Homo sapiens: one gene and its partner. The protein of the gene in region 2 purifies or fractionates together with the protein of the main gene of each other region. This does not show direct contact. Each region holds a gene or a part of one and is shown on either strand. Other genes may lie near its edges. The genes, in order: B3GALNT2 and CFAP69.

Region 1 (3,823 bases), on a different chromosome or scaffold from region 2:
TTTGATCTTATTCCACCTCTCTGCCACTCTCAATCCCCCCTGCTTCTAATCCATGTCTAAGCTGCTTCTGTTCAACTGCTTTACTTTACATGCATTTCTCTTTTTCTTGCAGAGGGAAAGTAACACGGCATATCGTGGTCTTTTAGAGAACTACTTCAAGATATATTGAAGTCAAATGTCAGAAAAATAGGTTTTTTAACCACATACCATTAATGTAAATTAGTCCAATAGACTCCTGAGTACTGTGTTACACAGTACAAAACCCAAAGCAGATGCATAATAAAATACCTATGTAAGAATGTTGCTCAAATTTCTAGCTCCCTTTACCAATCTGGCTCTAAACTCTTATCACCTTTTATGTTACAAGAACAGGGTACCTAGTTGACTCCAGTGTCTAGAAACAGAGGGAAAAAAAGAAAGTGGTAAGAAGTAAACATGATACAGAAGGACATAAAGATAATTCAGAAAAGAAAAAAGGCAAATAGCAAGCCTATGAAAACATGTTCAACTTCAATAAGAATCAAGTTTGAATTAGAGCAATGAGACACCAGTTTTCTCCTACATTCAAACTGACAAATGTCTTCTTAAATGATTGTAACTAAATGATGGTACTTCAAGGAAATGTTGTTAGTGATTTCAACAAAGTGGCTACTCTCCGCCGGGCACGGTGGCTCATGCCTATAATCCCAGCTTCAATTTTGGGAGGCCGAGGAGGGCAGATCACAAGGTCAGAAGTTCGAGACCAGCCTGGCCAATATGGTGAAACCTCATCTCTATTAAAAATACAACAAAAATTAGCTAGGTGTGGTGGTGCATGCCTGTAATCCCAGCTACTCGGGAGGCTGAGTCAGGAGACTTGCTTGAACCTGGGAGGCAGAGGTTGCAGTCAGCCAAGATCCCGCCACTGCTCTCCAGTCTGGGTGACAGAGCTAGACTCCTTCTCAAAAAAAAAAAAAAAAAAAAAAAAAAAAAAAAGGCTACTCTTTTTCATTGCGGGAAGGAATGTAATTTGGTACAGTCTTCTGCAGGGCAATTTGGCAATGTGTCAAATAATTTAGAATGGTGTAACTTTGTCCAGCAATTCTAAGAACTCATTCTAAAGAAATAATCAGTGATACACTCAGAAGATCTTTATTAATCATAGTGTCACCTATTAATAGCGAAAAACTGCAAGCTACATAAACACATAAAGGACTCATTAAATAAATTATGGTGTAGCTATATGACAGAATACTATGCAGCCATTAAAATTACATGTTAATCATATCATTAAACATTATTCTATTAATACATCATATTAAGATAAACAGGCGATAGGAACTATGTAGATACTAGACGGTTCTGTTTATATAAAGTACAAAAGTAGCCAAATTTCTGCCACTGGTTACTATCCCTGGTAGTGACAAAACAGAGCATGAAGGGAACTTCTGAAGCACTGATAGTTTTCTTTTTTTAAATCTGGGTGGTGATTAGTTGGGTGTGTTCAATTTGTGAAAATACATCAAACTGCGCCAGTTTTATTCTCTTGATTTATTCACTCAAATGACAGAGCATCTCCTATGCTCATTGTTCTAGATGGCACAGATACAGCAGTAAACAAAATCTTCATAATGTCAGGACTAAATCACAATCCCAAGCAAGCTCCCTGAGGGCAACGTAAGGGCCAAGGGAAAGTTTTCCCTCTGAAGGTTCGGTGAAAATCACTGACAAGAGATGGACAGGAGAAAAGGCATATAAATTTATTTGATCAGTAAAGATACAGGAGAAAGTGCCCATTTCTGTGCTTAGGTTTAACAAAGTATAGATAGCTATGTGGAATTAAGATTGGACAGAAAGGGTAGGATCTAATGTTAACAGATGGAGTTGGAAAACCCAGCAAGGCCTGTCTAGATTCTTCTTGTCCTCTCTGAGTATACATTCTTTCCTACTGGGTATGGGATAGGACCCTCTCTGGTATGAGGTTCTTATGACCTTTAATAAAAGAAGGTAAGTTAGGTAATTTTTATATAGAAAGGAGGTGGTGGGGGCTAGTTAGAGTAATATGTTTAGGTTTTATGGCTGGCTTTGGGGAAGAGGGATTTTAGTTTCTACAGCTAGCCTCAGGTGAGAATGCAAGGCCAGAGAGAGGACAGCAGCAGCAGGTCAGAGACAGCTGCTTCTGAGGCCTTATTTTGGGGTATTGTTTTCTTCTGAGACCCTACAGTAAGAACTATTTCTTTTCTTAATATGTAATATATCCTGAGAGTCTGGCAACCTGCTCAACCCTGCACTGTGAGTGGACATCCAAAGGTATATTAAAGTCTAAGGGAGGGCCTGGCGCAGTGGCTCATGCCTGTAATCCTAGCACTTTGGGAGGCCGAGGTGAATGAATCGCTTGAGGTCAGGAGTTCGAGACCAGCCTGGCCAACATGGCAAAACGCAGTCTCTACTAATAATACAAAAATTAGCTGGGTGTGGTGGCACACACATGTAACAGAGGCTGAGGCAGGAGAATGGCTTCAACCCGGAGGCAGAGGTTGCAGTTAGTCAAGATGGTGCCACTGCACTCCAGCCTGGGCGACAGAGTGAAACTGTGCCTCAAAATAATAATCAAAAAAGTCTAAAGAAGGTTGACATCAAAATTGATTGCTCAAAATAAGCCCAAGAGTCTTAAAAATCACACCAAAATTCCACTCTGATATGCATGCTCTTGGAAGAGTCACAAATAGATACAAATCTTGAAAATGAAGAAAACATGTGAGCCTGTCACAGATCTAATGATAAAGACAATCATCATACACACTACCAAAGACACCTCCCAAAACACCACACTAGCACAGGCATCAGCGGCCACCAGACTACCACTCCTCTCTCAAACTCATGGAGTGTTTACTATGAAACAGGCACTGTTGCGGGTGTTTCATTAATTGAATCTTCACAATAAGTCTATGAGATCATCATCTTATAAATAAGGAAACTGAAGCACAGAGACACAATTAGCATATAGGGATAATTTTGGAAGAACTCACCCCAGGCAAAATTACAAAGCAAGCTCAATTTGTTTTCTGACCTTCTACTTGCTCTACATCTGTTTCCATTAGATACTGTGAGCACCTTGGGAGAAGGGACTAGGCATCCAGCACAGAATCTAACACTCAAGTACTTGTTGAGTGAATATGCTCCTTTGTTTTGGTTTCTTTCTTTCCAGATACCCTAGAAAGCGAAGCCTTCTTTTGTCACATCATTTTTCTAAATTAACCGTTAAATAATTCCTACTTAAGGCATTACCCAAAACGAGCATTTTGTAATCAAGATATCCTATGTTTAGATTCCTTAGTCCGATGGTTATCTCCACCTGCATTTTCCTCTGTCACCCTCAGGTGTACTGGATTTCACTTCCTCTTTACCAGTTGCTTTCCCTGACTGGTTTAAGGGAACCTATCACATTAAAAAAGTTGCTGACTCTGGTACTAAGGTGACTCACTTACTTCATTCTGGTCCCTGCTCAACTGTTACCTCTTCAGAATGGAATGGACTTCCCTGACCTATTTAAAACCATCTCTTTAATCTCTTAACACTGCTTTATCTTTTTTCCCTATACTTATCACTACCGCTGTGATATTTATAATTATTTCCTGATGCTCTGTCTTCCCTTCTAAATTGTAAACTACATGAGGGCAGGAAGTTTAGCTTGATTACTGCTGTAATTCCACACCTACGATAGGAGCTGGCACAGAGTAGGCTCTCAAATATTTGCTGAATCAACTGCGAGCCAAAGAACCTTTTTTAATATTCAGGGAAGGTAAATCGCTCTTTCAAAAAAAACAAAGAAACTGCCATTACT
Region 2 (3,823 bases):
TCATCTGAATGTTTGCAAGGACACTAATGAGAAATTACTACCTGACCAGGGGATTCTAGAGAAACAAAGGTCTACCTATAAGTTGCAGCTTTAACTAGGATACTATGTAGCACTGTTTCCCTATTTGCACAGCATGAATTCCATGACTCTTGGGACTACTTGACGTCCACTGTTAGTGGGCTGAGGTCGTCACAGCCAGTTCTTTGTAGCACAACTAGAACTTACGTGACTGACTTGTGAATATTGTTGCCAAGGATCTCTATTAAATAATTTCAATCATTCAATGATTTTTAATTATAAAATATGTGAAGGCTCAGCTTCTGGTACAGATGAGTAGTAGCTCCGAGAGAAATTCTCCTGCTGGTGACAAATAAAACTATCTTGTGACCAAGAGTAAGCAGACACTGGAAGGATGTCAGAATTTTGTAGAAGGGAATGGCACTACACGAGTTTCCCATTTTAAAAAAGGCTTTTGGGGCCGGGCGCGGTGGCTCACGCCTGTAATCCCAGCACTTTGGGAGGCCAAGGCGGGCAGATCCTGAGGTCAGGAGATCGAGACCATCCTGGCTAACACAGTGAAACCCTGTCTCTACTAAAAATACGAAAAAATTAGCCGGGTGTGGTGGCGGGTGCCTGTAGTCCCAGCTACTCAGGAGACTGAGGCAGGAGAATGGCGCAAACCCGGGAGGCGGAGCTTGCAGTGAGCTGAGATCGCGCCACTGCACTCCGGCCTGGGCGACAGAGCAAGATTCCGTCTCAAAAAAAAAAAAAAAAAAAAAAAAAAAAAGGCTTTTGGCCTGAGAGCAGGCCGTATTCTACACCTCGTGGAAATGCTAAAACTCAGAGTAACCCTGTGGTCTTAGTGGCCTGAAGAACCAGAGGGCAGAGGCAACCACAGCCATTGGAAAGTGAAGGGAGAAATCCCATAAAGGAGAGAGCCAGAGAGAGAGAATGCTAAATTCTGTGTACAAACTCTTCCCAAATATCTGGCTGATAGCTGAACCACACAAGTGCAGAGAATACTCAAGCATCCCAGGCAAGAACTGAATTAAGATTTGGGCTGCCATACCTCAAAAAGGGATGAGTACAGCTAAGTTAAATATGTAGTTATTAAAAATTCTTCAGAGGAGTATACCAGAATCTACAGTAAAGATGCTCATAATGAATAGAAAGATAAGAACTCTCAGGAGAGACACTATAAAAAGGAATAAAAATAAATTCTAAAACTGAAAAATATATCTGAAGTAAAAATGCACTGGATGAGATTAACAGCAGAATGGAGATGACAGAAATAAAAAAGTCAGTGAATTTAAATATATAGACTAATACAAATTATCCAACCTGAAGAATAGAGAGAAAAATGATTGAAAAAAGTGAGCAGAGCCTCACAAACCTGTGGGACAATATCAAAAAGTCAAACATAAAAGTAATCAGAGCCTCTGAAGAAGTGGGGAGAGAGAATGGGGCTGAAAAAATATTTGAAGAAATAATGGCCAAGAGTTCTCCAAATCTTCTCAAAGACTTAAATTTATATATCCAAGAAGCTCTATGAAACCTAAGCAGAACAAATACAAAGGAGATCTCACCTTAGCACATCATTTCGAAACTGCTAGGAACCAAAGATAGAGTTAAAATCTTGAAAACAGTGAGAGAAAAGGATGATATATTATACATAGGGGAATAACGATTTGAAATAATGGATACTTCTCATCAGAGTCCAGGGTGCTCACCATTACACCATGGAACCTCACAATGAATATTTCTCATCAGAAACAACAGACTCCATAAGACAGCAGAACTTTATCTTTGAAATGCTAAACAAAAACATTTTTCAGCCTAGAGTTCTATATTCAATGAGCATAGACTTTAAGAATTAAGATGAATTAAATATATTTTCAGATAAAAGAAAACTAAGATAACTTGTTGCCAGCAGCCAGTAGATTTGCACCACAAGAAATTGTAAACAAAGTTCTTCCAGTGAAAGAGAAATGATGCCAGATGGAAACTCAAATCATCAGGAAGGAAAGAAAAGCATCATAAGTGGTAAATACATGTATAAATCACACAATATGAGGAAGATTCCAAATTTCCAAAGGATTGCAAAGAAGAATTGGCAGAGTGATAAGCACACTGGTGACCATCAAGATATTACAGCATAACTTAGCATTACAAGAAAATACACAAATATTCCAACATAATATAGGACTTCTTTCACCCAAGCCCACCACTTCCACAATTAAAATTAATGCAATTTGATTCATACTTACAATCATTGGTGCTTCAGGATTTTGAGCTATAATTGTAGTGATCACTAATATGTCATTTCTAAGCTGACGGTCATAATGACTGAAACCTCTCATAAACAGATTTTTAAATACTTCCTTCAAAGCCCTAGAAAGTAAAATCATATTTTAAAAACTATATTGTTATACACTAAATGTTTGCGTCCCTCCAAAATTCATATATTTAAATCCTAACCCCCAATGTGATGGTTTTAGGAGTGAGGCCTTAGGGAGGTAATGAGCCCTCATGAATGGAATTAGTGCCCTTATAAAAGGGACTCCAGAGAGCTGTCTTGCTCTCTTTCCTCCATGTAAGAATACAAGAGATCAGCAGTATGCAACCCAGAAGAGCACCCTCATCAGAACCCAACCACACTGGCACCCTGATATCAGAATTCTAGCCTCCCAAACTGAAAAATAACTTTCTGTTGTTTATAAACCACCCAGTTTACGGTACTTTATTATAGCAGCTCAAACTAAAACACACACTTTTATGAAAATACTTCCTGAATGTCTATCAACAAAATCTCCCTTTTTATATTATACTATTCATTTGAACATATTTCTAATATTTTTTACACTTCCAAATCTGCCTCTAATCCTCTATGTACCAGATAAGAATCCACTAAACCAGTCTATTACACATGGTGGTCAAAGTGACAGCTCTATAACACATTCAATCATGTCATTTTCCTTTGTAAAACCATTTAAAGACTATTCTTTGTTCTTAGGATTAAGTCCTACCTCCTTAACAAGGCTTATTAGACCTTTCATGTTATGGTCCCTGATAACATTGTTAGCCTCATCTCTCACCATTGTAGCCTGTTCCTTCTGCTCTCATCATACTGAATTTTAGTTTTCTGATTTTGCTAATTATATTTTCACTTGTTTTCCCTGTCTAGGATGCTCTCCGCATGCAAAACTTTTCTGTTACCAAGTCCTGTTTGTCATTCAGTTACTAGACTTGAGTTCATTAGGAAGCAGTTATTAATTCTCCAACTCTGAGTTAGGTTCCCTTGTATTAATAGTAGATATTTGTTGCTTTGCCTCCTGGGACCTACTTGCCCTTTTTATAAGAACAGCATTCTTATTTTTATTTAGGCATTTACTCCTTCCTGACTTTTGCTCCTGTGAGGCTGCCTTCAGCTGCCTTTTCGCCAGTCAGAGCATTTTTTCTTTTGGCACTAATAAATCACTGTGGAACAGGCATTTGACCAATATTAGACCATTCAGGGCCAAACTGGACTCAATTCAAAGACTTTTCTCTGAGCCTTCAGGATAGCAAGGTTTCTCTTCTGCTTGATTTGAGGTTGAAATGATGTGATCGTAGACTTCTTAGGTCTTACTACATAGGCTTGGGTGTGAAGCCAGCACCATGGAAGACAATGTAGAGAGAGGAGGGACGAAGTCCTAGTATCTGCTGATCCCTGAATAAAGCTGCACATGAAACCAGTTTTATCCTTGACTTTGTAGTTAAATAAGCCATAAATTTTCTATATTGCTTTGGTCATTTGGGTTTTTAGTCACTTGCAAACAAAAAT

What was found.
Region 1: the proteins of CFAP69 (region 2) and B3GALNT2 purify together in Homo sapiens (affinity purification with mass spectrometry; one large-scale study listed by BioGRID and IntAct). This does not show direct contact.

What each region holds. Positions count from the first base shown.
Region 1 is NC_000001.11:235,497,901-235,501,723, forward strand, and holds part of B3GALNT2 (UDP-GalNAc:beta-1,3-N-acetylgalactosaminyltransferase 2), read right to left. Parts: intron 1-3,823. UniProt on the Homo sapiens protein: Beta-1,3-N-acetylgalactosaminyltransferase that synthesizes a unique carbohydrate structure, GalNAc-beta-1-3GlcNAc, on N- and O-glycans. Has no galactose nor galactosaminyl transferase activity toward any acceptor substrate.
Region 2 is NC_000007.14:90,272,555-90,276,377, reverse strand, and holds part of CFAP69 (cilia- and flagella-associated protein 69), read right to left. Parts: intron 2,392-3,823; coding exon 2,268-2,391; intron 1-2,267. UniProt on the Homo sapiens protein: Cilium- and flagellum-associated protein. In the olfactory epithelium, regulates the speed of activation and termination of the odor response and thus contributes to the robustness of olfactory transduction pathways.